Regions from separate parts of the Homo sapiens genome. Here regions 2 and 3 are each linked to region 1. The links come from fine-mapping of genetic effects on gene expression. A gene starts in region 1. Each other region holds a variant in brackets. All regions are shown on one strand. Distances are between the middles of the regions. Region 1 holds the start of SCARF1 (scavenger receptor class F member 1). Region 2 has its middle 7.5 kb from the start of PRPF8. Region 3 overlaps SLC43A2 (solute carrier family 43 member 2).

Region 1 (10,218 bases):
AGTCTTCCCCAAAGGTACCAGTGGGGCAGGGGTCTTCACACCTGGGGTGAGGCAAGACTCGGGGAAGGGGAGACCAAGGCAGGCCTGGCCCCCACTGTGGGGCCCCACCCCTCCGCCCCACGCTCCTGGACTCAAGGACCCAACTGGCCACTCCTCAGCAGTGAAGCTCAGGTGCAAATAGGGCCTTGAACTTGGGGCCAAATCCAGCAGGTGACAGACTACAAGTCCCCAGAGGGCGAGGAGGGCAGGAAGCCTCAGAGGGGAGGGAGCTGGGATCCTGCCCAGGCCCCCCCAGAACCCACTGCTCTCCCCCAGTCTTCAACAGGAGGGAGGCCCCTGGGGCCGCATGAACCTGTGTGTCGGGGAGGGTGGTGCTCTCGGAGAGAGCCGCTGAGCTGAGGGTCCTGGGGGAAGGTGTACCCCACCCTGAACAGAATGGTGCCCTCACCTGGGCCCCAGCCAGCCAGGGTCACAGCGCTGACAGTGGCCAGTATCTGGCTCACAGGCCTCCCCATGTCGGCAGTGAGGGCACTGCTGTTCGCAGCTCTCGCCAAAGGTGCCAGGCAGGCAGGGCTGCTGGCACTGGGTCCCGTTCCAGCCCGGCTCGCAGGACTCACAGCTGCCTGTGTCTGGAGAGCACGGCTCATTGTGTTTGCAGCGGCCACAGCTGGGAAGAGAAGGGCTTCGTGGGAACAGTGGGGGTGGATGGATGGAGCGCCCACCCCCTCCTACCCCTGTACTCCACGCAGGCCTTCGGGGGCCCTGGAGAGTGTTCGGGTCCCACCTGGGTCAGGCAGGTTTGAGCCTCAGTTTCCCCACGTTGTACAATGAGGACAAATGAGGGCTCTTACAGGATCCCATCCCTTTCCTTCCAGGCATCTGCTCTGTGACCGTCTTTCCCTGGGTCCCAGGACCATCAGGAGCCAGCAGCCCAGCCAGGGCAGGCGAGTCACCACCAAGCTCTGAGTCCCATTTGCGAGGTCTGCCAGGCCTTCCCTCCTGCTCTTTTCACTTTTCCTTTTTCCACACTGAGCCGTCCCCAGGTCTGGCATGAATGGGACTCAGTAGTGTCTTCTACCCCATCACACGAAATGCAAAAAATGTAAAGTGTTTTCACCCAGGGGTCCTCAAACCCTGGGCCATGGACTGGTACTAGTCCGTGGCATGTTAGGAACTGGGCGACAGCGTAGAGATGACCAGCAGGGGAGCCTGACCGCCTGAGCTCCGCTGCCAGCCAGATCAGTGGTGGCCTCAGATTCTCATAGGAGCGCCAGTCCTATTGTGAACTGCGCACGGGAGGGTCCAGGTTCCATGCTCTTTACGAGGATCTAATGCCTGATGATCTGTCACTGTCTCCCATCACCCCCAGATGGGACCCTCGAGCTGCGGGAAAGCAAGCTCAGGGCTCCCACTGATTCTATATTATGGTGAGTCATATTATTATTTCATTATAGATTACAGTGTAATAATAGAAAAATTGTCTGCCATGAAACCAGTCCCTGGTGCCAAAAGGTTGGAGACCACTGTTGTCACCAATATAATTTCACATTTGCCATATCTTAATTTCCCATTGATGCCTAATAGTTACCTGAAGTTTCTCCCTCAGATGCTTAACTAGCTGGGATCATATACTTGGGTCAGACCCATTAGTAGGGGAGAAGAAGGGCAGTTTATAAAAGCCATTTAGCTGATCCTGACCAGCATTTTTATTTCTTATTTTATTTTATTATTATTTTCTTCAAGACTGAGTCTCACTCTGTCGCCCAGGCTGGCGTGCAGTGGCGCGATCTTGGCTCACTGCAACCTCCGCCTCCCGGGTTCAAGTGATTCTCCTGCCTCAGCCTCCCAAGTAGCTGGGATTACAGGCGCCCAACACCATGCCCGGCTAATTTTTGTATTTTTAGTAGAGACGAGGTTTCACCATGTTAGCCAGGCTGGTCTCGAACTCCTGACCTCAGGTGATCCGCCCGCCTCGGCCTCTCAAAGTGCTGGGATTACAGGCGTGAGCCACCGCGCCCAGCCAGGGATGAAATTTCTTACTGTGAGTGCAGCCAGTCAAAGTTTGAAAGCCACTGAGCCCTAAAGGGACCTTGCTCAGGACCCTTGGTCACTCGATCCACTTATTTATTATTTTTTTTGTAAGAAACCATTTTTTTAATTTTCTTTTTTTAAATATATTTATATATATTTTTTTATTATTATACTTTAAGTTTTAGGGTACATGTGCACATTGTGCAGGTTAGTTACATACGTATACATGTGCCATGTTGGTGTGCTGCACCCACTAGCTCGTCATCTAGCATTAAGTATATCTGCCAATGCTATCCCTCCCCCCTCCCCCCACCCCACAACAGTCCCCAGAGTGTGATATTCCCCTTCCTGTGTCCATGTGATTCCATTGTTCAACTCCCACCTATGAGTGAGAATATGCGGTGTTTGGTTTTTTGTTCTCGCGATAGTTTACTGAGAATGATGATTTCCAATTTCTTCCATGTCCCTACAAAGGACATGAACTCATCATTTTTTATGGCTGCATAGTATTCCATGGTGTATATGTGCCACATTTTCTTAACCCAGTCTATCATTGTTGGACTCGATCCACTTATTACCTACATATGGCTTGCTAGCAGTGCTAGTATATTTTGCACAGCAGTAATCAATGAAATGAGCAGGTGAGGCTGGACCTGGGGCAACAAAGCGTTTTTAAAAGTTTTTGTTTTGTTTTGTTTGAGACGGAGTCTTGCTCTCTGGCCCAGGCTGGAGTGCAGTGGTGCGACCTCGGCTCACTGCAACCTCCGCCTCCAGGGCTCAAGCGATTCTCCTGTCTCAGCCTACCGAATACCTGGGACTACAGGCGCAGCCCGGCTAATTTTTGTGTTTTTAGTAGAGACGAGGTTTCAGCATGTTGGCCAGGATGGTCTCGAACTCCTGACCTCAGGTGATGCACCCGCCTCAGCCTCCCAAAGTGCTGGGATTACAGGTGTGAGCCACCCCACCTATCCGACTTTTCCCCTTTCTCGTTCCTCTGCTTTGTATGTTTTTTGAGAGGAGCACCGCGAAGCCCTGACCCCTCCTCCCGGCGCCCCGCCGCGGCCACCTGTCTCCGCTCCGCCCCGCCCGCTCACAGGTCTCCGCGCAGCCTCGCTCACCTGTGTCCGCCTCCGCCCCCTCCCCCGACCGCTCACCTGTGCCCGCCCCGCCCCCACCCTGCCCGCTCACCAGTTTCCACCCCGCCCCCTCCCCGCCCACCGGTGTCCGCCCCGCCCACCGGTGCCCGCCCCGCCCACCGGTGTCCGCCCCGCCCACCGGTGTCCGCCCCGCCCACCTGTCTTCGCCCCGCCCCCTGTCTCCGCCCCGCCCCCCTGTCTCCGCCCCGCCCCGCCTGCTCACTTGTGTCCGCCCCCGCCCCGCCAGCCCACCTGTCCCCGCCCCGCCCGCTCACCTGTGTGCGCACTGCACCCCGTGGCTGCCTGCCGGGCAGGGCAGCTCGCAGCGCGCTCCGCGGAAGCCGGGCGGGCAGGTGCACTCGCCGGAGGCGGCGCTGCAGCGGCCCCGCACACACTCGCACTGCTGCTGGCATTCGGGACCCCACCAGCCCGGCCGGCAGGCGCAGCGGCCGGAGTCCTGCTCGCACGGGGAGCCGTGGCAGTTGCAGCGGAAGCTGCAGCGGCGCCCCCACCAGCCCGGCTTGCACACGCAGGCGCCCGTGGCCTGCTCGCAGCGCGCCGCCGCGGTGTTGCACTGGCACGGGCGGCGGCACGTGGACGACCACCAGCCGGGTTCGCAGTGGCACACGCCGGTCGCGGGGTCGCAGCGCCCGTGGGGGCCGCAGGCGCACGGGAACTCGCAGCGGGCTCCCCAGCGGTCGGCCTGGCACTGGCACGCGCCCGTGGCTGGCTCGCACTGGCCGTGCGGGTGGCAGGGGCAGCTCTCACGGCAGTCGGGGCCCCAGTACTGGCCCGGGCAGCCTGCGGGGGTGGGGACGGGAGGGGTCAGCGGGCTCAGGGCCGCGCGCAGACCCTTACCCTGCGTCCCCTTCCTCAAGGAAAAGGGGCGCTGGGCCCATCCTCCAAGAGCCGGGGACAGACCCTCAGAACATCCGGCAGCCTGTCCTGGGCAACACTCACTTCCTGCTCCGCTCTGACCTACAGAAAACCCTTAGCCATTAGTGGGAGGCTCAGCCTGCCACTTCACATTCCAGAACACACTCAGAGATCCTGAGTGGGCAGGGGACTTGCCCAGAGCGTGGCACCGAGGTTGGTGGGCCTTCCTCCATGCCTGCTCCTCCCTGCCGAGATGGATCTCTGCTGGGCTGGAGGAGAGCTGGCTTTCTCCTGATCTCAGGCCTGGATACTGCCCGCCAGGGTGTCGGGAGAAGCCACCTTTCCCCTAGTGATTCCTTGATTCCTGATGCCCACCCTCTGGCTCTCCTGCTTCCCAACCCCTTTCCCTTCCCTCTCTTTCTGCCAGAGAGGGCAGAGAGCCCAGCCAGGGGCCCCCTTCCATCCACTGCCCATGTATAAGGTATATGTGGGAAAGGCAAGTAATACACTCATTTTACAATGAAGGGGAATCACAGGTTTTCTGAGAAGTGGAAGAGGAAGATGCTCAGGTGGGCAGTGCTTTGTGGATGTGGGTAAAAACCCGGTGACTCAGGTCATCTCCCGGGAGTGTGTGTCACTTCCTGTCTCTGGACCGCAATTCCTCAGTGAAGCTGGGGGGGATTCTGGCCCTGCTGTCCTGAGGCTGCATGGCTACCTGCCTCGCCTGCTCCCACACCACTGCCCCCGTACCCAGCTCTGCCCAGCAACTTCATCTGGCCCTTGAGACTCACGGGAGCTGCAGTGGGCCCCAAAGAATCCAGGCTTGCATCGACAGAGGCCCGGCTTCACACACACCTCGTCTTTCTGGCAGGCGTCCGGCCCCTCACAGATGGCTGAAAGACACCCCACCCAGGTTGGAAAGACGGGAGCAGGACCAGGGGACACCCCTGCCCTCTCACTGGCTCCAGGGGCCATGCCTCCTCAAGAGGTGCCCCTTCAGGCCTGGGGGTGCGTCACAGGAGAAACCCTGACTCCTGGTATCAGGAGGGGCAGGCCCCATGGGGTAGGAAGGAAGGGTTGTCACTGGGCTACGGCCTCCCTTCTCCTTGGCTGAGGGTCTGTCCTGGCTACTCACGGATGGTGCATTCTTGATCCTTCTGCCTCCAGCCTGCGCAGCACTGCAGCTCAGCAGAGGGGCTGTGGGGCAAAAAGGGGTCAGCCGGACATGGTGGGGGGTGCAGCCTGGCCCTGAGGAAGGTGGATCACTGTCTCTGGCTGCAGTGGGGGAGGCTGCCTTAGCCCCCTGGGGAGGCCTAATGGATCTTTACAGCTAGGGTCCCCAGCCCCTCCCCTCTCCTTCCCTGACCCTTCCACCATCTGCCCTGGCTGGCCACTACCTGCCAGACCGCCATCAGCAGTCCCTTCCTTTCAGCCTAAGCCCCCTTCCTAGTCTCCTCCTTCCCCTAACGGCCTCAACACCGGTTCAGCCACCCGCATCAGACTCCCACGAGACCCACCTGCTGGCCACACGCATCAGACTCCCACGAGACCCACCTGCTGGCCACACAGACGTGCTGCCCTTTGGGGTCCAGCTCGGACCCCTGAGTCCCCCGAGTCCAGAGCAGCAGCAGCGGGAGCAGCAGCCCCAGCCCCATGGCAGGCAGCTCGGTGGGAGCGCTCGGGTTCGTCTGGCCCCCACAGCTCCCAACCCCCTCCCTGCTTCCTCTCAGGGCTTTTCCTGAGGAAACCAGGCCGGAGGGGCGGGCTGCCACGAGGCACCTCCCTGAGAGGGAGGGGGTGGCTGGAAAGACTGACACTCAAAAAAAGAAAGGGAAAGAAAGGCAATGGCAGGGCTGACTGGCCTGGGCCTGGAAGGGCCAGAAGAATGAAGTTGCAGGTCCCTGGGTGCCGGGGCCAGGGAAGGGGGTGGACTGAGGCTGGGAGCCACGGCTTTCCATCAGGCCACACTCCCAAAGCAAGGCCTGAGCTGCAAGAAGCCACCCCACCCAGTGACTGAGCAAGGAGACCAGCGAGGACCCCTCAGCCTGCCTCTGCTCCTGGCAGGGTTGGGAGGTGGCACAGACATGGACAGACAGGCGAGGAACAGTTTCTGTGTATTACGGGCAGTTCTTTATTACATGAGCTCAGGCCGTCTGCACAAAGCCCTGGGAGCTAGGCAGTCAGCTCTCATTTCATGGATGGGGAAACTGAGACTCAGAGAGGCACTCTTATATCTGGCCCCAGAGGCTCGGTACAGAGACGTAGAGAGGGAGGCGGGCTGAGACCCCGTCCTGCCCTGATGCAGGCCAGGATTGGGGCAGACCCCTGGCGAGGGCTGTGAAGGCGGGAGCCCTGTCCTCATTTGAGGCCACACATCCTTCCACAGCCAGACCCCTAAGTCAGGCCTCTGGGGCGGCTGAGGCCCCCAGACAAAGGTGTTCGTGGAGGGCAGAACAGGGCGGATCAGGAGCTGGAGACTGTGGTTGGGCCTCCTCTTCTCCCCCTAGCTTGCTGGGTGCAGGGCTGCTGGTCTCATCCTCAGAGGATTCAGCTTTACCCCGATACCATAGGCCAAAGCTGGAGAGAGACAGCCAGAGGCACTTTGAGCCAGGAAGCCAGAGAGGTCAAGGATATGGGTGAGGGCAGGGGATGGTGAGAAAAGGGGAGAGGGGGAAGAAAGGGCAGCCTGAGGGAGTGTGAAGGTGATGGGGGCCAGGGCCAGAGAAGCAGGAGGGGACGGTGTGCTTAGAGCCAAGCACAGCAGGGTGACGGGCAGAGAAGCGGGAAAGGGGATCCTGAGAAGGACCAGCCAGGGCCCTTCCTCCCTCCCCACACTCTTGCCTTTCCCCTTTCCCCAACATACAAACTCTGTATTTTGGACTCCGGGGGTGGGGGATGGTCTCCCTTGTCATCGGAGAGCAGGATCCATGGGCCAGCCTCATCCTCACTGAGACAGAGGAGAGAGGAGAAGTGAGGGCCATTGATCAAGGCCCTGAGGGACAACAGGAATCCAGCAGGGGGGATGGAGGGACTGCAGGGCCCCCGGGGCTGGAGAGAAGGCAACCCTGGGGAGATGCAGGATGTCGAGCCTTTAATTTTTAATTTTTTTTTTTTTGAGACAGGGTCTCACTCTGTCGCCCAGGCTGGAGTGCAGTGGTGCGATCTCAGCTCACTGCAACCTCCGCCTCCCAAGTTCAAGCGATTCTCCTGCCGCAGCCTCCTGAGTAGCTGGGATTATAGGCACATGCCACCATGCCCGGCTAATTTTTGTATTTTTAGTAGAGACGGAGTTTCACCATGTTGGCCACGCTGGTCTCGAACTCCTGACCTCAGGTGATCTACCCACCTTAGCCTCTCAAAGTGCTGGGATTACAGGCGTGAGCCACCGCGCCCTGCCAAGGGTTTATTTTATAGCTTGACACACAGCAGGCCCTGACACAGCCGCGGCTACAGTTTCACCCCCGTAAGAATAAACAGACCCAGCCAAGACAGGAACTTGAAGAATGAATGTGGAGAGGCAGTGTTGTCAGGCAGAATGGATGGCAGGCAAGGCAAGGGGAGTGGTGAGATCCAGGGAGAAGGGCGCAGGCTGGACAGCGGCCATGGGACACAGCCAGAGCAGGTCAGCAGGCCCTAGAAGCGGCCAGGCTAGGGAGGCTCAAGGGGTGACCGGGTTGGGGTGACAGCCTCAGTCTGAGACAATGGGCTCAGAGGGTGACCAGGCTGGGTCATCAGGCTCAGCAGAATGAGGGAGGGAGGCCTGGCTCCGTGGGAATGCAGGCAGGGACCTACCTGCTCTCTGCTTCCTCTGGTGTCCCTAACATCTTGGCCTTGATCTTCTTCCGCTGCTTCCGGACAGCCACCTTCATGGCCTCGAGCAGAAGGCCGGGGACCCGGTGGTCTGTGAGCAGCTCCCTAAAGAAAAGGGGCAGGGAGGGAGAAAGCCCTGGTGATGCCAGCCATGGGGATGCCAGCAGTGGAGATGCCAGCCGCAGTCCTCACTCCTGGTACCTGTGCACGCAGCTCTTCCCTGAACACGGGAAGCGCTCTGCCTTGCTGACACCCTCAGACCTTAAATTAGGTGGCCCCGTGGCCCCCTCCTAGGAGAGATTCCCTGGCTGCTGCAGCTGCAACCCTTTGTACTGTCCCTCTCCCCTGTCTGGATGACATTGCAGGAGGGCAAGGGCTGTACAATTCATGTCCTCCCAGTTCCCAGCGCAGGCCTGGCACATGTCACTGTGGACATGTCAATGACTGGAGAATGAGGTGGGGTGATCGGAGGCCCCCCGGCTTCCCAGCGTCCTCACCGCTGGAAGTAGGCCAGTTCCTCCTTGAGCAGGAACACTTTGGCTTTGAGTTCATTCCGCTCCTGAAGGATCTGCTCAAACTCCTCCCGACTGAAGCGGCACTGCCCTGCCTCCGAGGGGCGCCCGAGCTGCTGCGCGGCCTCCGCCTTTGGAAGGACAGGCACAGTCAGAGGGTCGCCTCGGCTGGCGTTCCCCCGCCCCAGGGCCATCATGGGAATGCTAGAGGAAGTGACGGGCCGGGAGACTTGGGGGACAAGGGTGCCCTAACAGATAACAGAGCAGTGCTCCAGCTGAGAGCGGGGGCCGAGGCCGGCCGGGGGCGCAGATCTGTCTGCCACCTCCCCGCTTCCTGGCCGACCTGCTGTGCAGCATGCAAACCTTGCTTGAGTGCCCACCGAGGGCTGGACGCTGCGTCCTGGGCTGGGTCCTTGCCCTCATACGGCACTCACCGGGTCCTCAGGGTTCCCTGGGGCGCCTGCGCCGGCGGTCGCCCATTCGGGCTCCTGTCCGTGCTGGTGCCCGGGCCGCCCGGCCTGCCCCCGCGCTCGCTCTTTAGCCTGCGGAGTCGCGGCTTCGCCAGGCTGCTGGCGCTCCCTCTCGCGGTCCTGCGCGGCGCGCAGCTGGGTCTGCATGGCCGCCAGCTTGTGCCGCAGCTCAGCGTTCACCAGCAGGAGGCGCTGCAGCTGCTCCTGCAACTGGGAGCGGAGCAAAGGGTGGGGTGGGCGGGGCACCGAGGGCCCCCCGGAGCCCCGCCCAGCGCCTGCCTCGCTCCGCCCCCGCCCCCGGAGCCCCGCCCAGCGCCTGCCACGCTCCGCCCCCGCCCCGCCCCAGAGCCCCGCCCCGCCCTCACCGCCTCGGTCTCCTGGCCGCGCTGCCGCAGGTCGCGGTTGTGCGCCCGGAGTTCGTCCCGCTGTCGGTCCGTGACCTCCTTGAGCTGCCGCAGCAGCGCGCGCTCCTCTGAGGAAGGGGCGTTCTTAGCGGCGGCGGCGCGCGGCCCGCGGGAGGGAGGGGAGGACCCGAGCAGGTCGTCACCCGCCCTGCCCTGGCCGGGGCTGCGCTTACCCTGTGGCCCCGCGCGCAGCTCCCTGCGGAGGCGCTCGTTCTCCTCCCGCAGCCGCCGCAGCTCCTGCTCCGCCGGCTGCGCCGACACCTGCAGCTGGGGAGACCCGGGTCTCAGGCTTCGGCCCTGCCGGCCCCGTGGGTGGCGAAGGGAGGGCCATGACTCACCGAGTCCGGGGCGGGCCCCACGGCAGCCTGTTCCAAGAGCTCCAGCGCCCGCACCACTAGCGGCACCAGCCCGGCCGCCGCCTCCGGCCCGAAACGGCGCGCCAGATCCTGCAGCTCAGTGCCCAGGGCCCCGGCTAGATGGTACACAAGCTCCGCGGCCGATGCCGACCCCGCGGCCTCCCGAGACCCCCAGCCAGGCACCCCGGGCGCCGCCCTCCTGGGCTCCATGTCTCCCAGAGGCTTAGGGCTGCGACCCCCCCACCCCACCCTCCACTGGGACGGGGAAAAGCGAAACAGTTCCGCCCCAGGAAGCCGTTTAGGGCGGTGTGGGCGGGGTAGAAGCGATAAGGGTAGGGAGGAACGAGGAAGGGAGAAGGCGTGGGGTAGGGAGATAGTGCCCTAGGTCGCCTGGGCTCTGTCCTTTCCACCCCCAAGGTCACAGGAAACAAGACAGCCAACTTCCAGCCAGGCGTCCAAGAGCTGAGGTTCAGGGCTGCAAGTGGTCACTTGAGTGGAGCCCTCCCCACAGGCCCAATCCAGGCTCCGCCCGTTTGGAGTCATGGGGCCAACTTGGCAGTGGCCCGCTCCAGGCGAGAGGTGACAGGTAGGCAGCCGGTCTCTGGCCTCCGCCCGGCTGTACA
Region 2 (10,218 bases), 47 kb after region 1:
AAGGAAGGAGAATCGCTTGAACCCAGGAGGTAGAGGTTGTAGTGAGCTGAGATAGTCACTGCACTCCAGCCTGGGCAAAAGAGCAAGACTCCGTCTCAAAAAAGAAAAAAAGAGTATTGTACCAATGTCAATTTCCTGGTTTGATTGTCGCTCTATGGTTGTATAAGAAGTTCTGGGGGGTGGCCGGGCGCGGTGGTTCACGCCTGTAATCCCAGCACTTTGGGAGGCTGAGGAGGGTGGATCACGAGGTCAGGAGATCGAGACCATCCTGGCTAACACGGTGAAACCCCATCTCTACTAAAAATACAAAAAAATTAGCCGGGCATGGTGGCAGGCGCCTGTAGTCCCAGCTACTCGGGAGGCTGAGGCAGGAGAATGGTGTGAACCCGGTAGGCAGAGGTTGCAGTAAGCCAAGATCGGGCCACTGCACTCCAGCCTGGGTGACAGAGCAAGACTCCGTCTCCAAAAAAAAAAAAAAAAACAAGTTCTGGGGGGTGGGCAGGGGGCAGGTGTGGTGGCTCACGCCTGTAATCCCAGCACTTTGGGAGGCTGAGGCAGGTGGATCATTTGAGGTCAGGAATTCGAGACCAGCCTAGCCAACATGGTGAAAACCTGTCTCTACTAAAATACAAAAATTAGTGGGGCATGGTGGCACATGCCTGTAATCCTAGTTACTTGGGAGGCTGAGGCATAAGAATCGCTTGCACCCGGAGGTGGAGGTTGTAGTGAGCTGAGATCATGCTATTGCACTCCAGCTTGGGTGACCGAGTGAGACTCTCGCTCAAAAATAAAATAAAATAAAAAGTTCTCAAGCTACGTGAAGGGTACACAAGAACTCTCTGTACTATTTTCAAAACAGCATTATTGAGATAAAAGTTGCACTCCATGGCCACCATGCTGGCTCATGCCTGTAATCCCAGCACATTGGGAAGTCGAGGCGGGCGGATCACCTGAGGTCAGGAGTTCGAGACCAGACGAAGCAACATGGTGAAACTCTGTCTCTACTAAAAATACAAAAATTGGCGGGGCATGGTGGTGCATGCCTGTAATCCCAGCTACTTGGGAGGCTGAGATGTAAGAATCGCTTGCATCTGGAGGCAGAGGTTGCAGTGAGCTGAGATCGCGCCATTGCACTCCAGCCTGGGCAACAAGAGCGAAACTCTGCCTCAAAAAAAAAAAAAAAAAAATCGCAATCCATAAAGTTCGCTTGTTTTCATGTGTATAATTCAATGATTGTTAATGAATTTTAGTTTTAATGATTCAAAATTAGTATATTTACAGACTTGTGCAGTTACCACTATTGAGTTCCAGAACATTCCCAGCACCCCCCAAAGAAATCTTTTTTATTTATTTATTTATTTATTTATTTATTTTTTATTGATAATTCTTGGGTGTTTCTCACAGAGGGGGACTTGGCAGGGTCATAGGACAACAGTGGAGGGAAGGTCAGCAGATAAACAAGTGAACAAAGGTCTCTGGTTTTCCTAGGCAGAGGACCCTGCGGCCTTCCGCAGCGTCTGTGTCCCTGGGTACCTGAGATTAGGGAGTGGTGATGACTCTTAACGAGCATGCTGCCTTCAAGCATCTGTTTAACAAAGCACATCTTGCACCGCCCTTAATCCATTCAACCCTGAGTGGACACAGCACACGTTTCAGAGAGCACAGGGTTGGAGGTAAGGTCACAGATCAACAGGATCCCAAGGCAGAAGAATTTTTCTTAGTACAGAACAAAATGAAAAGTCTCCCATGTCTACCTCCTTCTACACAGACAGGGCAACCATCCGATTTCTCAATCTTTTCCCCACCTTTCCTGCCTTTCTATTCCACAAAGCCGCCATTGTCATCCTGGCCCGTTCTCAATGAGCTGTTGGGCACACCTCCCAGACGGGGTGGTGGCCGGGCAGAGGGGCTCCTCACTTCCCAGTAGGGGCGGCCGGGCAGAGGCGCCCCTCACTTCCCGGATGGGGGGGCTGGCCGGGCGGGGGGCTGACCCCCCCACCTCTCTCCCAGATGGGGCGGCTGGCCGGGCAGAGAGGCTCCTCGCTTCCCAGTAGGGGCGGCCGGGCAGAGGCGCCCCTCACCTCCCGGATGGGGCGGCTGGCCGGGCGGGGGGCTGACCCCCCCACCTCCATCCCGGACGGGGCGGCTGGCCGGGCAGAGGGGCTCCTCGCTTCCCAGTAGGGGCGGCCGGGCAGAGGCGCCCCTCACCTCCCGGACGGGGCGGCTGGCCGGGCGGGGGGCTGACCCCCCCACCCATCTCCCTCCCGGACGGGGCGGCTGGCCAGGCGAGGGGCTGACCCCCCCACCTCCCTCCCGGATGGGGCGGCTGGCCGGGCAGAGGGGCTCCTCACTTCCCAGTAGGGGCGGCCGGGCAGAGGCGCCCCTCACCTCCTGGACGGGGCAGCTGGCCGGGCGGGGGACTGACCCCCCCACCTCCCTCCTGGATGGGGCGGCTGGCCGGGCGGGGGGCTGATGCCCCGACCTCCCTCCCGGACGGGGCGGCTGGCCTGGCGGGGGGCTGACCCCCCTACCTCCCTCCCGGATGGGCGGCTGGCCGGGCAGGGGGCTGACCCCCCCACCTCCCTCCCGGATGGGGCGGCTGGTGGGGCGGGGGGCTGACCCCCCCACCTCCCTCCCGGATGGGGCGGCTGCCGGGCGGAGACGCTCCTCACTTCCCAGAGGGGGCGGCTGCCGGGCGGAGGGGCTCCTCACTTCCCAGACGGGGCGGCTGCCAGGCGGAGGGGCTCCTCACTTCTCAGACGGGGCGGCCGGGCAGAGGTGCTCCTCACATCCCAGACGGGGTCGCGGCCGGGCAGAGGCGCTCCTCACATCCCAGATGTGATGGCGGCCGGGCAGAGGTGCTCCTCACTTCCTAGGTGGGATGGCGGCCGGGCGGAGACACTCCTCACTTTCCAGACTGGGCAGCCAGGCAGAGGGGCTCCTCACATCCCAGATGATGGGCGGCCAGGCAGAGATGCTCCTCACTTCCCAGACGGGGTGGCGGCCGGGCAGAGGCTGCAATCTCGGCACTTTGGGAGGCCAAGGCAGGCGGCTGGGAGGTGGAGGTTGTAGCGGGCCGAGATCACGCTACTGCACTCCAGCCTGGGCACCATTGAGCACTGAGTGAAGGAGACTCCATCTGCAATCCCGGCACCTCAGGAGGCCGAGGCTGGTGGATCACGTGCGGTTAGGGGCTGGAGACCGGCCTGGCCAACACAGCGAAACCCCGTCTCCACCAAAACCAGTCAGGCGTGGCGGCGCGAGTCTGCAATCGCAGGCACTCGGCAGGCTGAGTCAGGAGAGTCAGGCAGGGAGGTTGCAGTGAGCCGAGATGGCAGCAGTACAGTCCAGCTTCGGCTCAGCATGAGAGGGAGACTGTGGAAAGAGAGGGAGAGGGAGACCGTGGAAAGAGAGGGAGAGGGAGACCGTGGGGAGAGGGAGAGGGAGAGGAGGGAGAGGGAGAGGGAGAGGGAGAGGGAGAGGGAGAGGGAGAGAGCAAAGAAATCTTCTACACATTCGCTCCCCCATTTCCTCCTACCTCCTATTCCTCAGCCCTAGGCAACTACTTTTCTGTTTTCCATCTCTATAGATTCACCTGTTCTCAACATTTTATATAAATGGTATGATAGAATAATGAATTTTTTTGTGTGTGGTTGTCTGCTTTTACTTGGCATAATGGTTTTGTGGTTGATGTTGTTGTTGTTATTTGTTTTTTAGAAATGAAGGTCTCACTCTGTCATCCAGGCTCAAGTACATTGGTGCTATCATAGCTCACTATAACCTCAAACTCCTGGGCTCAAAGGGTCCTCCCACTTCAGCCTCTAGAATAGCTAAGACTGCAGGTGCATGTCACTAAGCCTGGCCAGCATGATGTTTTATGATGTTTTTGAGGTTCATACTTGTTATATTGTTATGGCATGTATATCGTCTTTGGATAAATATGTATTCAGATCCTTTACCCATTCTTTTTTTTTTTTTTGAGATGGAGTCTCGCCCTGTCGCCCAGGCTGGAGTGCAGTGGTGTGATCCCAGCTCACTGCAAGCTCTGCCTCC[A/C]GGGTTCACGCCATTCTTCTGCCTCAGCCTCCCGAGTAGCTGGGACTACAGGCACCCGCCATCATGCCCAGCTAATTTTTTTTTTGTATTTTTAGTAGAGACTGGGTTTCACCGTGTTAGCCAGGATGGTCTCGATCTCCTGACCTCATGATCCACCCGCCTAGGCCTCCCAAAGTGCTGGGATTACAGGCGTGAGCCACCGCGCCCGGCCTTTTTTTTTTTTTTTTTTTTTTTTGAGATGGAGTTTCGCCCTGTCGCCCAGGCTGGAGTTAGTGCATGGAGTGCAATGGCACAATCTCGGCTCACTGCAACCTCTGCCTTCCGGGTTCAAGCGATTCTCCTGCCTCAGTCTCCCAAGCAGCTGGGATTATAGGTTCCTGCCATCACAAGCCCAGCTATTTTTTGTCTTTTTAATAGAAATGGGGTTTCACCATGTTGGCCAGGCTGGTCTTGAACTCCTGACATTGTGATTTGTCCCCCTTGGCCTCCCAAAGTGCTGGAATTACAGATGTGGGCCACGGCGCCTGGACTTTTTTTTTTTTTTTTTTTTTTTTTTGAGATGGAGTCTCGCTCTGTTGCCCAGGCTGGAGTGCAATGGCGCGATCTGGGTTCACTGCAACCTCTGCCTCTGGGGTTCAAGTGCTTCTTCTACCTCAGACTCTGGAGAGTAGCTGGGATCATGCAATTGCAATCCAGCCTGGGCAACAAGAGCGAAACTCCATCTCAGGAAAAAATGAAAAAAAAAAAGAGAGAGAAGCTTGATGAGTTGGACTTTATTCTCCTGCCTCAGCCTCCTGAGTGGCTGGGATTACAGGCGCATGCCACCACACCCGGCCATATCTCATTATTTAATTGACGATTTTCATTTTTTTCTTTTCTCAGTTTGCTCTTTCTGGATCTTCCGTTATTTTGATGTTGGGTCTTTTGGACTGGTCCCACGATTGTCTCATCTTTTCTAATTCTATCCCCATCATTACTCTTCTTTCCGGGAGACTTTCTTCCAACTCCTCCATGAACTTTTCATTTCCATCAAGTGTCACACTTTTCATTTCCAAATACTAAGTACTCTTTCTTAGTTTTTTTTTTTTTAAAAAAAACGGAGTCTTGCTCTGTCGCCCAGGCTGGAGTGCAGTGGCGCAATCTCGGCTCACCACAACCTCCGCCTCTTGGGTTCAAGCGATTCTCCTGCCTCGGCCTCCCGAGTAGCTGGGGGTTACAGGCGCCTGCCACCACGTCCAGCTATTGTTTGTATTTTTAGTAGAGACGGGGTTTCACCATGTTGGCCAGGAGGGTCTTGAACTCCTGACCTCATGATCCACCCGCCTCGGCCTCCTGAAGTGCTGGGATGACAGACGTGAGCCACCGCACCCACCTCTTTTTAGTTCTTCTTTTGTAGGATCATGTTCTTGTTTCATGGCTACAACATACTCTCTTGTCTCTATAAGGAAAATAGCTTTTCTGAAGTTTTATTCTCCAGGCATACTGTTTGCTTTATCCGTGTTTTTCTTTTTCTTCATCTTCTTTTAAAAAAGTTTATTTCATGTTAGGGGCTTCCTTTAAATGTCCATAATTGGCTCTTCAATTAAAATTATAGTAAGTGCTTCCAATGAGAAGTCCAGAGATCTCACCTGATTTTATGAAAAGAGTCATAGAAGTTTTTTTGGGAAAAGAGATGTTGCCGTGGGTCACTCCTGTAATCCCAGCACTTTGGGAGACGAAGGCAGGAGGATCACTTGAGGTCAAGAGTTCAAGACCAGCCTGGGCAACATGACGAAACCTCAACACAAAAAATACAAAAATTTGCCAGGTATGGTGTCTCACGCCTGTAGTCCCCGCTACTCAGGCCTGAGGTGGAAGGATGGCTGGAGCCCAGCAAGTGGAGGCTGCAGTGAGCCAAGATTGTACTGGAGACTACACTCCAGCCTGGGCAACAGAATGAGATCCTGTCTGAATTTGAAAAAAAAAAAGGCCGGGTGCAGTGGCTCATGCCTGTAATCCCAGCACTTTAGGAGGCTGAGGTGGGCAGATCAAAAGGTCAGGAGTTCGAGACCATCCCGGCCAACGTGGTGAAACCCCTGTCTCTACTAAAAACACTAAATTAGCCAGGCGTGGTGGCGGGTGCCTGTAATCCCAGCTACTAGGGAGGCTGAGGCAGTAAATCGCATGAACCCAGGAGGAAGAGGTTGCGGTGAGCTGAGATCACACCACTGCATTCCAGCCTGGTGACAGAGTGAGACTTCGTCTCAAAAAAAAAAGAGGAGATGTTGTAAATAAGCACTGCAAAATGAGAATGTGTAAGACAAAGGGAGTGAGTAGGAGGAGGGAAGCCAGGAAGATGGAAGTGAGGGAGAAGGAAAGCCTACCAGGCGCTGGGCAATGAAATAGGAATAGATTTCTGAATAAGGAAGGAGCATGGTGTATTTAATAAATGAACTAAGGCCACAGAGACTGAAACGGGCTGGGTGTGGTGGCTCACGCCTGTAATCCCAACACATTGGGAGGCCAAGGTGGGCAGATCACTTGAGTCCTGGAGTTGAAGACCAGCCGGGTCCGCATGGCAGAACCCCATCTTTACTAAAAATACAAAGAAAAAAAATCAGCTGGGCGTGTGGTGTGCACTTGTAGTTCCAGCTACCCAGGAGGCTGAGGTGGGAGGATCGCTTGAACCTGAGAGGCAGAGGTTGTAGTGAGCCGAGGTCGCACCACTGCAATTCAGCCTGAGTGACAGAGCACAACCCCGTCTCAAAAAACAAGAGTGGGCCGGACACAGTGGCTCATGCCTGTAATCCCAGCACTTTGGGAGGCAGAGGTGGGCAGATCATCTGAGGTTGGGAGTTCGAGACCAGCCCGGCCAACATGGTGAAACCTGATCTCTACTAAAAATACAAAAATTAGCCAGGTGTGGTGGGAGGTGCCTGTAATCCCAGCTACCCAGGAGGCTGAGGCAGGAGAATTGCTTGAACCCAGGAGGCAGAGGCTGCAGTGAGCTGAGATCACACCACTGCACTCCAACCTGGGCAACAGAGTGAGACTCTGTCTCAAAAAAAAAAAAAAAAAAAGAATGAAATAGGAAGTACCCTGAGTCTGGTGAGTGGACAAGAGGGGAGCCCTTGGAAGGCCACAGACCATGTGATGAGTTATGCTTCTTTCTTAAGAAGTAGGAAGAGCTACTGGGAATGACATGATCAGATTTGCATCGTGACAATCACAGACTGGCTGTTCTGTGGAGAATAGTTACGAGGCCATTATTATTATTATTATTATCATTACTATTATTATTATTATTTTATTTATTTATTTTTTGAGACAGAGTCTCACTCTGTCGCTCAGGCTGGAGTACAGTGGTGCGATCTCTGCTCACTGCAAGCTCCGCCTCCCAGGTTCATGCCATTCTCCTGCCTCAGCCTCCCGAGTAGCTGGGACTACAGGCGCCCGCCACCACGCCCAGCTAATTTTTTGTATTTTTAGTAGAGACATGGTTTCACCGTGTTAGCCAGGATGGTCTCGATCTCTTGACCTCGTGATCCGCCCGCCTTGGCCTCCCAAAGTGCTGGGATTACAGGCATGAGCCACCCTGCCCGGCCAGCCATTATTATGTCGCTTAGACTAGAGATGATGGTGACTCGGACCAGATGGGACAGCGGAGATGGAAAGGATGGATGGGTGGGAAAGCCGTCCTGCAATAACTGGAAGTGTGCATCTGTGGTGGGAGGTGGGTGGCATTGTTCAGGGACGACTCCTCAGTTCCCGATTTGCACAGTGCGTCGATGGCAGGGTCATGCACAGACTGAGTGGACTGGATGCAGGTTTGGAAGGAAAGCGCCTGAGTCGGGTTCTGGAGAACCCTTTGGATGTCAGAATGCAACCATCCCATCCTCTAGATTCATCTGCTCATTCTCAGGCTACAGGTACTTGAATGACCTGTTTCTTCAGTTTCTTTTTCTTTTCCTTTTTTTTTGAGAGACAGGATCTCACTCTGTCACCCAGGTTGGAGTGCAGTGGTGCAATCTTGGCTTACTGCAACCTCTGCCTCCTGGGTTCAAGCGATTCTCCCACCTCAGCCTCCTGAGTAGCTGGGATTACAGGTGCATACCACCACATCTGGCTAATTTTTGTAATTTTAGTAGAGACAGGGTTTCCCCATGTTGACCAGGCTGGTCTTGAACCTCTGACCTCAAGTGATCCGTCTGCCTCGGCCTCCCAAAGTGCTAGGATTATAGGCGTGAGCCAACGCACCCGGCCAAGGATGACCTGTTTCTGTATCTGTCACCCCTGGTTTCCCTCTGCCGAATGACTCCTACTTTCTCAGTTCCTCACTCTCTAACACAGTCCTGAGTGCAGGCTCTCTGATGCCAGGGCTCTGGTTCATTGACTCACTATTACACCTCATAGTTTGTGCTTGGCATGTCGTAGGCCCTTTATAAATATTTGTTATAAAGAGAATAAAGTCAGCTGGGCGAGGTGGCTCACACCTGTAATCCCAGCACTCTGGAAGACCGAGGTGGGCGCATCACCTGAGGTCAGAAGTTCAAGACCAGCCTGGCCATGCTGAAACCCCGTCTCTACTAAAAACACAAAAAATTAGCCGGGCATGGTGGCTGGTGCCTGTAATCCCAACTACTCGGAAGGCTGAGGCAGAAGAATTGCTTGAACCTGGGAGGCGGAGGTTGCCGTGAGCCAAAATAGCGCCATTGCGCTCCAGCCTGGGCAACAAGAGCGAAACTCCGTCTCAAAAAAAAAAAAAAAAAAGAGAATAAAGTCTGGGTGCGGTAGCTCACGCCTGTAATCCCAGCAATTTAGGAGGCCAAGGCGGGCAGATCACTTGAGACCAGTTCAAGACCTGCCTGGCCAATATGGTGAAACCTAGTCTGTACTAAAAATATAAAAAACAGCCGGGCATGGTGGCAGGTGCCTGTAATCCCAGCTACTCGGGAGGCTGAGGCAGGAGAATCGCTTGAACACAGGAGGCAGAGGTTGTAGTGAGCCAAGATCGCACCATTGTGCTCCAGCCTGGGCAACAAGAGCAAAACTCCATCTCAAAAAAACAAACAAAAAAAAGACAGAGAATAAAGAAAAATGAACTGTCCCAGTGATACTTGGAGCCACAGAGTAAATTGGCACATCTTCCTTAAATCATAAAATTGGGCCGGGCGCGGTGGTTCACGCCTGTAATCCCAGCACTTTTGGAGGCCGAGGCGCGCAGATCATGAGGTCAGGAGATCGAGACCATTCTGGTTAACACGGTGAAACCCCGTCTCCACTAAAAATACAAAAAAAGTTAGCCAGGCGTGGGGCCAGGCACGGTGGCTCACGCCTGTAATCCCAGCACTTTGGGAGGCCGAAGCGGGTAGATCACGAGGTCAGGAGATCGAGACCATCCTGGCTAACATGGTGAAACCCCGTCTCTACTAAATGTACAAAAAATTAGCTGGGCGTGGTGGCAGGCGCCTGTAGTCCCAGCTACTCGGGAGGCTGAGACAGGAGAATGGTGTGAATCCGGGAGACGGAGCTTGCAGTGAGCCGAGATCGCACCACTGCCCTCCAGCCTGGGCGACAGAGCGAGACTCCGTCTCAAAAAAAAAAAAAAAGAAAAAAAAATTGACAGTTTCACTTGTCATTTTGTAAAATTTTTTTTAAAAACAAGTATTGTAATTGTATTTGAAATGGTATTTTATTTTATCTTTTTAATTTTTTTTACAGACAGACTCCAGACTCCACTGTTGCCCAGGCTGGAGTGCAGGACACAATCATGACTTACTGTAGCCTCCAACTCCAGGAGGCTGAGTGACCTCCCACCTGAGCCTCCTGAGTAGCTAGGACTGTAGATGTGTACCACTGTGCCTGGCTTTTTTTTTTTTTTTTTTTGAGATGGAGTCTCATTCTGTCTGCCAGACTGGAGTGCAGTGGCACGATCTCGGCTCACTGCAATCTCCGCCTCCTGGGTTCAAGCAATTCTCCTGCCTCAGCCTCCCGAGTAGCTGGGACTACAGGAGCCTGCCATCACGCCCAGCTAATTTTATTTTATTTTATTTTATTTTATTTTATTTTATTTTATTTTATTTTATTTTATTTTTTGTATTTTAGTAGAGACGAGGTTTTACCATGTTGCCCAGGCTGGTCTCAAACTCCTGAGCTCAGGCAGTCCACCCATCTCGGCCTCCCAAA
Region 3 (10,218 bases), 56 kb before region 1:
GCCTCCCAAAGTGCTGGGATTACAGGTGTGAGCCACCGCGCCCGGCCAAGCACCCTCTGCAATTATCTCTCGTGAATGAACGATTACCGATCCCAGTCTCACACCCACGCAGACACCCTGGATGATCCAAGAACGGACCCCAGGTGCTCACAGATGTGCAGGGAGTCCCAGGCCCACCACTTCCTAACTGTGCGGCCCTAGGCAAACTACTGCAAGTCCCAGCCTCAGCTCCCTCATCTGTAAAATGGGTATAACACTGGTCCCCACTTCGCCAGGGTGCTGGGAGTCTTCACTGAGATACTGTGCATGGAGTCCTCGGTGGAGGGCCTCAGGCAATAAACCGTAGCTTATTATATTAAGGTGTGGAGCCATGGAAAACAGCGTTTGGCTGGGCGTGGTGGCTTATGCCTGTAATCCCAGCACTCTGGGAGGCCGAGGCAAGCGGATCACAAGATCAGGAGATCAAGACCATCTTGTCTAACACTGTGAAACCCCTGTCTCTACTAAAAATATATATTAAAAAAATTAGCCGGGCGTGGTGGCGGGCGCCTGTAGTCCCAGATACTTGGAAGCCTGAGGCAGGAGAATGGTGTGAACCCGGGAGGCGGAGGTTGCAGTGAGCCGAGATAGAGCCACTGCACTCCAGCCTGGGCGACAGAGCGAGACTCCGTCTCAAAAAAAAAAAAGAAAAAGAAAAAAGAAAACAGCGTTTAACTCATCCTCTGATCTTGGAGCCCATCCCTTACATAAAGTAGGACTCCAGTACCTTGTTTAATCTTCACAATCATGAACAACTCTATTAACACATAATATGTTTATAGCAACTCACTACTCAAACTGACCGGAATAAACCTTGCAGGCAGATAACAAAGGGTTGGTGGGCTGCATGATTGAATGCAATGAATGAAAGTCACCATCTGAGCCGGGCGCGGTGCCTCATACCTGTTAATCCCAGTACTTTGGGAGGCTTTAAGATGGTGTAGCCACTGCCAAGGGGTGGAGGGAGGGTGGTCTTAGGAGCAAAATGGTCTGCTAGCCATTGTCTGTACACTTTCACCTGTGTCTCTTTTTCTTCCTTCTTACTCAATGCTTCTTCTTTATTGTTTTTTCTTTTTGAGACAGTCTTGCTCTGTTGCCCAGGCTGGAAGTGCAATGGCGTGATCTCGGCTCACTGCAACCTCCACCTCCCGGGTTCAAGCAATTCTCGCGCCTCAGCCTCCTGAGTAGCTGGGATTACAGGCGCGCGCCGCCACCGCACCTGGCTAATTTTTTGTATTTTTAGTAGAGACCGGGTTTTACCACATTGGCCAGGCTGGTCACTAACTCCTGGGCTCAAGCAATTCACTCACCTCAACCTTCCAAAGTGTTGGTATTATAGGCATGAACCACCCTCCCTGGCCAATTTTTAAATTTTTTGTAGAGACGGGGAGTGGGGGCTGGCCATGTTTCCCAGGCTGGTCTCCAACTCCTGGCCTCAAGTGATCTTCCTACCCCAGCCTTTCAAAGTGCTGGGATTACAGGCATGAGTCACCGCACCTGGCCTCAAACTTTAGCATTTCCATTGCATTCCAAACAATTTCCATAAAGAGGGGAGCAGTTGAAACGCATGCTGAGCTGAATGAGTGAGTCTCTCTAAGGGCTCCGGGAGCAGCTGGAGTGCATTGCTCTCTCCCTCTGTCCCACCCACCCTGTGCCTGACATGCAGCTCTGGGGTCTTTCTGCAGGGGCTGCGGGCTGGGAGCCGGGGCACCGGCCCTGCCTACGCACTGGTTGGCGTCTTTCTCCTCGGGCTCCTCGGAGGCGTCTTCACACTCCTTCAGCCTCCAGTCCATGATGTAGCCAATGACGGGGGCCGTCAGCAGGCACAGCAGCTGGAGCACGCCGAAGATGGAGGTGTAGAGGCCAACTGTGGAGGAAGGCGCTGCGTCATGGGGACGCCTGGCAGACAGCCCTGGAGCAGGGACTGGGCACCAGCTGGGAAGGGGCTGGTCCCCACAGGCTCTTCTGGGGTCTGCCCCAGAACCCCCTGTCACTATGGGTCTTGCGAGGAGCCCGGAGACCTTAACTCTGAAGTTGAGGATGGAGCACGGGGCAGGTCACCTTCTTCTCGGTTCCAAATCCCCTGCTTGTTTCTAAGAAACAGCTAATGAAACCCAGAGTGTCACAATGGCCTTCCCAGAGCTCCAGGAAGTCGCTATAACTTGGGAACTCCTGTGACGGAGGCTAAGTGACGGGCCGTTAGTTTCTGTCTCTAGAAATAGCCCAGAACGGCTGGGCGCGGTGGCTCATGCCTGTAATCCCAGCACTTTGGGAGCCCGAGGTGGGCGGATCACGAGGTCAGGAGTTCGAGACCAGACTGACCAACACAGTGAAACCCCGTCTCTACTAAAAATACAAAAACTAGCTGGGCGTGGTGGCAGGCACCTGTAACCCCAGCTACTCAGGAGGCTACAAGGAGAATCACTTGAACCCGGGAGGTGAAGGTTGCAGTGAGCCAAGATCATGCCTCTGCACTCCACCCTGGGCAACAGAGCAAGACTCCATCTCAAAAAAAAAAGAAATATCCCAGAAAGGCACCGCTCACGGGGCTCTGATGTCAGGGCTTCCATATTCAAAGACTTAAAATGACAGTGGATTTTCCAGGGAAGCAGACGAGGAATGTTGATTGCCCCAGTTTTACCCCCACGGCTCTAGCCAGGAGGCATGTCTGGAGCTTGAGGTGAGGAGCTTCTGGGTTGAACAGAGACTGGCTGGGAGGGGACATCACAGCATTCCCTGACAATCCCCCCCACCCCCCGCTTACCCGTGGCCATCACTGCATCAAGAAAGCAAAAGTGAAAAAGCAGAAAGAAGAGAGGTTAGTGGCAGAAATCTCAGTGCTACAGAGAGATGGGAGAGGAGGCAGGCTCACTCCATGCCCAGCACGCACTGCATTTCCCACACTGCGTTTCCCGCACTGCATTTCCCACTAAGCGTGACTCGGGGCGCTCAGGGGAGGCAGAGCTGCAGCCAGGCCTCTGGAAGTGGACTTGGGACAATGCCCAGCCCGGGCCCCTGCTGACATTCTCCTGTCTGCTGGTGCCGGGTCACAGGCGGACTGGTGAATCAGGCCTGTGACGTTGGCGGGTAGCGTGATGGGGAAGTGGCGGGCATGCGGAAGACCTGGTGCAATCAGGGTCCCTGTCACCACACTGCCTGCGGGAAGCGGCTCTGTCACATCTACCTCCTGCTGTGCTCAGAGAGAGGGAAAGGTCAAAGAACCTGCCCCTGATGCCCAGCCAAGGCATCTGACACCATGGGTCTCCTCCAGATGGCCAGAGCTGGTCTCCCTTCCACTCCAAGAAACGGGGACCATGCCTGGGCCTGCTCCCCTTCCTTGGGCCATGGCCCCCCTGCCACAGAGGCCTGGTGGCCCCTGAGCTGCTGCTCCGAGTGGAATGTCCTGGTCTAGAGGCCCTTGGCTGCTCCAGTGTCTTAAGACCCATATGTGAGTGCTGGCTCTGACCTTGAACAAGCTCCTCCATCACTCCAGGCCTCGTTTTTCAGGTGTATATGATGATAGTATCTATCATAAATGATGACGTAAACAGATGATAGTATCTATTTAACTCCTAGATTGTTATCAAGTCAAGGACAACAATAGGAAAACATGTCACCTGTCAACTCTTACAAAGGGAGGGTAGGACAGGTGGCCCCTGACTAGGGGGTGGGGGTGCAGGGGGCACCCGACCCATCTGGCCAGCCACAGCCTCTGTACCCTGCTCCCATTTTCAGGCCTCAATCCCCAAGCACTGTTGGCCCTGGACTGTTTTCCCCCCTTAATTCTGTTTCTCAATGCCTGCTTCTTCCCAGTAAGTGCCACACCCTGAGGGTGGGTGGGAGAGTGAGGCAGCAGTGCCCACTTTGGCTGGGACTGGGCACTGCTGAGGACAGCATGGGCCACGTCTTCCCCATCTCAAGACTGGCTTTTTGGCTGGGCATCGTGGCTCACGCCTGTAATCTCAGCACTTTGGGAGGCTGAGGCACGTGGATCACTTGAAGTCAGGAGTTGGAGACATGGTGAAACTCCGTCTCTACTAAAAATACAAAAATTAGCTGGGCATGGTGGCAGGTGCCTGTAACCCCAGCTACTTGGGAGGCTGAGGCAGAACAATCGCTTGAACCCGAGAGGCGGAGGTTGCAGTGAGCCGAGCTCATGCCACTGTGCTCCAGCCCGGGTGACAAGAGCGAAAATCCATGTCAAAAAAAAAAGACTGTATTTTTGGCTGGGCATTGTGGCTCATGCCTATAATCTCAGCACTTTGGGAGGCTGAGGTGGGAGAACTGCTTGAGCCCAGGAGTTTGAGACCAGCCTGGGAAAAATAGCAAGACCTTGTCTTTATGGAAAAAAAAAAAAAACAAATTAGCCAGGCATGGTGGCACACACCTGTAGTCCCAGATACTTAGGAGGCCGAGGTGGGAGGATCCCTTGAGCTCAGGAGTCGGAGGCCGTGGTGAGCTATCAGTTGCACCACTGCACTCCAGCCTGGGTGGCAGAGCAAGACCCCAACTCAAAAAAAAAAAAAAAAAAAAAAAGGCGGCCTTTTCCCAGCTGCCAGCACCCTGGCTAGTTAGGGTTTCCCTGAATCCGCAACTCCTGTTTGATGGCGGGTCTCAAACGCTGGGAGGCAGCAGAGTCACCGGTCAGCGGCAAGGCCTGGAGTCTCCATTCGGAACCAGCACCCGGGAGCCTCTGCCGCGGGTGGTCGCGGGGCCGTACGCGGAGGCGATGGCTCTGGTGCTTTGAGCCGTTCCTCAGCAGCACGGCACACCCCCTCCTGCGGAGCCGCAAAGCTCACGAGTGTGCGGAAAGTGACCCGGACCCTGCAGCTGCCTCTCGGCCGGAGCTAGGGCTATGGGTGTTGGGTGTAACGGGTCACAGAAGGAGGAGGGGGAAAACCAGTGCCTCGTCTGCCACAGACCAACCTTCCTGGCCTGGCTTCCTCTACTTCTTGAAATTGACTTTTTGAACATACGAAACAGTTGGAAACATTCCTCCTGGGCAGCAAAAGATTTCTCAGACAGCTTGAGTAA[A/C]AGACGCTGACTCAGCAGCAGGGAGATGAGCCTTTCGAGGGCCAGGGACCAGCTCTCTCTGCACACTTTGGGGTTTCCGCCACTCCAGGGCTGAATGTTTATCAGGCTGGGTGTGGAGGTTTACGCCTGTAATCCCAGCACTTTGGGAGGCCAAGAGGGGAGGATCCCTTGAGCCCAGGAGTTCGACACCAACCTGGGCAACACAGCAAGACCCTATCTCTGCAAAGAATTTAAAAATTAGCTGGGTGTGGTGGCGCGCACCTGGGGAGCCCTAAGAGGTCAAGGCTGCAGCGTTCACATCACTGCACTCCAGCCTAAGCAACGCAGAAAGAGACCCTGCCTCAAAAAAACAAGAAAGAAAGAGACATGATAGATTAGGGTTCCCCAAAGTGTGTTCCACAGATATTTTTTTTTCTTTTGAGATGGAGTCGCACTCTGTCGCCCAGGCTGGAGTGCAGTGGCGCAATCTCGGCTCACTGCAACCTCCACCTCCTGGGTTCAAGCAATTCTCTGCTTCAGCCTTCCAAGTAGCAGGGATTACAGGGGCCCACCACCACGCCTGGCTAATTTTTTGTATTTTTAGTAGAGATGGGGGTTTCACAATCTTGGCCAGGCTGGTCTTGAACTCCTGACCTCATGATCCACCTGCCTCAGCCTCCAAAAGGGCTAGGATTACAGGCGTGAGCCACCGTGCCTGGCCTAGACTACCATTTTCACAGTAGAACTGGCTGTTATCTGGTTCCCTTTGCTATCTTTTCCTTTTGATAAAGCTGGATTTCTCATCCCCTAAAAACCTGATAACTGATTCTTCACAAGTCCTAGGGTATCTTCACCTTGATAAAAACAAGGAAACCATCGGAAAAAGTGGCACACCAGGGAGGCTGCCAATAAAAAGGATTTGGAGTGTTTGTCCCGCCTGGGGATGACTAAGGCTGACTCAGCTCAGGCCCCGGGGAAGTCCTGACTTTCTCTGTAGAATCAAAACCTCTAATCAGCTGAAGACCTGCCCTGTTTGGAAAAGTGGACTGTGGGTTATCAGCTGTGTTTGTTGGAGCTGACAAGCCTCAACTGTTCGCAAGCTCCGAGGAAGTCTCTGCCCTGCCCTGTTTCTCGGTGAGGGATGCAGATCCCAGTGTGGGCCAGTTGCCCCAGCGTCTCCAGCCCCGTCCTGACCTCGATGCCCAGGGTGTCCACGCACCCACCGTGCCACTTTCTGGGAGGACTTTGGGCTTGACCTGCTGTCTTTCAGCCATGCTCAGGTGGAGCGTTCTGTTCTGTTTTCATTTACAGACACACACGGCAACCCTCCCCCTCAGGCACTGGAAAACACACACCCCACACCCCACACCCAGGAGGCTATTTTGGTCCTTCCCTCCCTCCTGGACCAGGAAACCCTGATGGGGACACGAAGAAACAGTTGGGGCTGGCAGTGATGCAATAGCTCTGACGGGCAGACAGCTCCTGGGATGCGGCCTTTCCATGGCCCGGCTGGCCCGGCTCAGCTTAACACATTCTGGCCGGTGGCCAGTGGGCTGGGCTCAGGCCGGGGAGTGACAGCGACCGAGGCTGCCCGGGGCACCTACCTGTCTTCTGGTCGCCGCTGACCAGGAACTTGAGGATGTTGTTCATAGCCCCCATGTAGAAGATGAGCCGCAGCTGCGTGACGCACATGGTGACCAGGCTGAGCAGCAGGATGGGGCTGAACACGCTGTGCATGAAGGAGGGGGCCACTGCAGGGAGAGGGTGCGGGGCTCAGGGCCGGGGCACACTGTCCCCACCACCGGGGGGACACGCAGATCCCTCCACGCTGGAGGCCAGGAGGGGGCCCTCGGGACGGGCCTGGTGAGGGTAACGGGGTTGGCGCTGCGGTGGGGTCACCTCTTGGGTGAAATCAGGCAAATCCCTTTCCCTCCCCCAGGCCTTCCTGAGCGCCTCTGCAGAACAGGGCGGGCGGGGCCGCCTCCCCTTTTGGGGTGAGGTGGGAATGGGGTGAGCCGATACCCACAGAGCACTCCCTGCCCGTCGCCCGGCTGCGGTCTCAGGCGGGTACCTGCGGCATCCGGCTGGCACTTCACCTCCAGGTCGACGGTGGACAGGCACAGCTTGTGGCCCTCCTGCAGCGCCACCTGCTCCTTGGCACTCCTCATGGAGCTGCCCACACTCAGGCGCCGGCCCACCGTGGTCACCTGCTTGTAGAACTGCTTCCCTGTGATCTTGTGGTCAAAGCCCAGCCAGCTGAACTTGATCTTCACCCTGGGGCCCCGGGAGAGTGTCTGTGGGTGCTGCCCGGGACCCCGGCTGGGGGGCGGGGGCTGGGGGCAGGCGGGACGGGGGCACCTCTACTTACGAGTAGTCCATGTCCTCCGGCCCCGGGAAGGGCTCAAGGGGCCAGTTAAAGAAGCAGTTGAGGAAAACCAGCCCGGAGCAGCCGGCCCAGACCACGAGGACGACGATGAAGGAGACACCAGCATCATAGATGAGCTGACAGGCACCGCGGGGACGGGGTGGGGGGGGGAGGGGGCAGAGTTAGCCCGGGGAGGCCAGAGCCGCAGCAGGCAGGGGCGTCTGGCCACCCCTGCTGTCCCTGTGCTGAGCCGCGCAAAGAGGCACAGCCCTGCCAGCCTGGGCGTTGGGGCATCAGGCACCCGCCTTCCAGTCCTCCCACCGTGCCTGCCCTGCTGGTCATCTGGGCCTGGCGTGTGATTAGCCCCCCGACTCGGAGGCCTTCCTGACCGCCCCGCCATGACCACGGCACGTCTTGCAGGCTCATAGTGATCGGCCCAGCAGAGGGGACGGTGCTCCTGGTCCGTCGGCTTGTCTGGTATTAGCGGAGCTCCCTGAAGGCGGGAACCGGCCAGCCCCGTCCACTGATGCTTCCCCAGTGCCTCTGAGAGCTCACATGGCAGAGGCCAAAGAAATGCTCAAGGAAGCCAGGCATGGTGGCTCACGCCTGTAATCCCAGCACTTTGGGAGGCCAAAGTGGGCGGATCATGAGGTCAGGAGTTCCAGGCCAGCCTGACCAACATGGTGAAACCCCATCTCTACTAAAAATACAAAAATTAGCCGGGCATGGTGGCGGGCACCTGTAATCCTAGCTCCTTGGGAGGCTGAGGCAGGAGAATCACTTGAACCTGGGAGGTGGAGGTTGCAGTGAGCCGAGATCGTGCTGCTGCACTCCAACCTGGGCGACAGAGCAAGACCCTGTTCCCCCCCAAAAAAAGGAGGAGGAAGAACTTTCGGGATGCTCCCCAGTCCAGGGGCATGAGAATCTCTGCAAGTCCATAGGATGGCTGGCCCCAGAGTCCCAGCTCCCACCACTTCAATGCCCAGGTGGCCAGCCCACACCGTGTCCCCCTCTCCTCGCCAACAGCATTCCCACACACACCACCGAGGAAAGGGGCTTTTACTTAGTGTGAGGGTCAGAGGTGGGAGAAGCCCCTACGGGGCCCTGGCAGACCCACAGGGTCTGGGGAACTTGGGCTGATGGACTGTGAGGTGTTTGCTTCGTCCTGACCCTGTGTGACTTCCACAGGCTCAAAATCCTGCCTAGGAGGGAAACAGCTGAAACACTTGGCCAAGAGCAGTGCTTTGGCTGGCGGGGAGTAACGGTACAATAACAGCAGGCTGGGGGTTGGGGAGCAGGGGAGCAGCGGGAGACCAGGATGACGGAGGAGACGGGGGCAAGACTCACAACTGGAAACAGACTCACCCACCGCCCTTCCCCTGCCCCAGCCCCGAAATGCAAAGGCACCTGCGGCAGATCCTGCAGCCACATGCGTGATTCCCGTCCCCTGAGGCCCCGCGGTTTTCATTTGTCGCCCCTGTGATGCCCAGGTGCATCCTGCCCGGGTGGGGGTGGTGGAGAGGGGCCACCCCGGGTGCCCACAATTGCCTCCCTCTTCAGAGAGGGTGGAAGGAGCCTGGAGCAGGCCTCTGCACAGACACCAGTGCAAAATACACGTGCTCACCTTGATTCCTGGAAAGGTGACTGCCGAGGAGGCGTAGGACCCAATCATCAAGGCAATAAACGTGGACCGAAGGTCGCCGAACATGTTGGGCAGCTGAGAGATAAGAAGCAGAGAAACCTCAGTGGGGAGGATGCACCAGGGAAGGGGAGGAGGAGGGGACAGAGAACTAGGCCCCATGAGGCCCCTTCTTCACCTGCGCCCCTTCCTGTGTGACTCACAGGGGCATTAGTTCAGGGGCAATGACCGCTCACTGAAGGTTTCTCCTTCATGGACTGAGGCTGATGGGGCCAAGGAGGGAGGTAATGCAGAATACAAGCAGTTGTCTGACTTTCCGGCTGGCAACCCTCCCTATCTCTCTGCTCCTGGCAGAGCCCAGGAGCCTTCTTGTCTTTTCAGGGTAACACTGAGATGCCAGAGAACAAAGTTATGAGCCTCAGGCAGCCCTCAAAGGGAGAAAGCCTGTTAAAAATAAGAATCTATTTGGGGATAATAGCATCATTTTATAAATAAAAATATCAGCATTCCAGAAAGACCAGATGTCAGCAAAAACTGCTTTTGGTTTGGAGAGGGTAGGTTTTTGGAAGATGTCAATCAGAATTCTACAGTTCTCTTCGGTCTGAGGATGAAGCTGGCCCAGGATTCCTGCTTCTGAATTTCTTTTCTTTGTTTTGAGATGGGGTTTTGCTCTTGTTCCCCAGGCTGGAGCGCAGTGGTGTGAGCTCGGCTCGTTGCAACCTCCGCCTCCCTGGTTCAAGTGATTCTCCTGCCTCAGCCTCCCAAGTCGCGAGATTAGAGATGCCCGCCACCATGCCTGGCTAATTTTTGTATTTTTAGTAGAGACGGGGTTTCACCATGTTGGCCAGGCTGATCTCAAGTGATCCGCCCGCCTCGGCCTCCCAAAGTGCTGGGACTACAGGCGTGAGCCACCGCGCCCGGCCTCCTGCTTCTGAATTTCTCAGTACAAGCAGGGGATTATCTTCCCACAGGATGTTCGGCCCGAGCAGTTAGCATCCTGGAAGGCCAACGGGAAGCAAGGTCCGGGCTCTCTTCCCAACGAAGCCACTCTCGGCATCTCACATCAGCTCATTCTGGGTACAGGGCAAGAGGGGGCCCACCTGAACAGGACTTCAAGGCTAACTCTTGCTCATTCTACCGAAATCCAGGCCTAGGGCAAACT

Evidence for each region. PIP is the estimated chance that this variant, and not a neighbour inherited with it, causes the effect.
Region 2: its variant is fine-mapped to the expression of SCARF1 in whole blood (TOPMed, PIP 0.99).
Region 3: its variant is fine-mapped to the expression of SCARF1 in whole blood (TOPMed, PIP 0.99).

The regions. Positions count from the first base shown.
Region 1 is chr17:1,640,000-1,650,217 of GRCh38, forward strand. It overlaps SCARF1 (scavenger receptor class F member 1), which reads right to left and starts at 5,733. Exons shown (of 11, transcript NM_003693.4): 1 at 5,598-5,733; 2 at 5,179-5,240; 3 at 4,835-4,936; 4 at 3,443-3,968; 5 at 449-667; 6 at 1-41. The coding sequence starts at 5,698. RILP (Rab interacting lysosomal protein) reads right to left here and starts at 9,867. Exons shown (of 8, transcript NM_031430.3): 1 at 9,578-9,867; 2 at 9,413-9,506; 3 at 9,201-9,307; 4 at 8,800-9,045; 5 at 8,351-8,496; 6 at 7,836-7,958; 7 at 6,907-6,990; 8 at 6,151-6,620. The coding sequence starts at 9,805. The coding sequence ends at 6,443. RefSeq lists a silencer at 9,176-9,470.
Region 2 is chr17:1,687,219-1,697,436 of GRCh38, forward strand. No RefSeq gene overlaps it. Among named protein-coding and RNA genes, the nearest start is that of PRPF8, 7.5 kb to the left of the region's middle. RefSeq lists enhancers at 2,878-3,378, 3,379-3,879. The variant A/C (reference allele first, on the strand shown) is at 4,054.
Region 3 is chr17:1,584,146-1,594,363 of GRCh38, forward strand. SLC43A2 (solute carrier family 43 member 2) reads right to left here. Exons shown (of 14, transcript NM_152346.3): 6 at 9,042-9,134; 7 at 7,421-7,554; 8 at 7,124-7,326; 9 at 6,657-6,803; 10 at 1,768-1,906. Among named protein-coding and RNA genes, the nearest start is that of PITPNA, 26 kb to the left of the region's middle. RefSeq lists enhancers at 936-1,483, 1,484-2,029, 2,030-2,576, 2,577-3,122, 3,123-3,669 and 4 more and a silencer at 7,717-7,882. The variant A/C (reference allele first, on the strand shown) is at 5,074.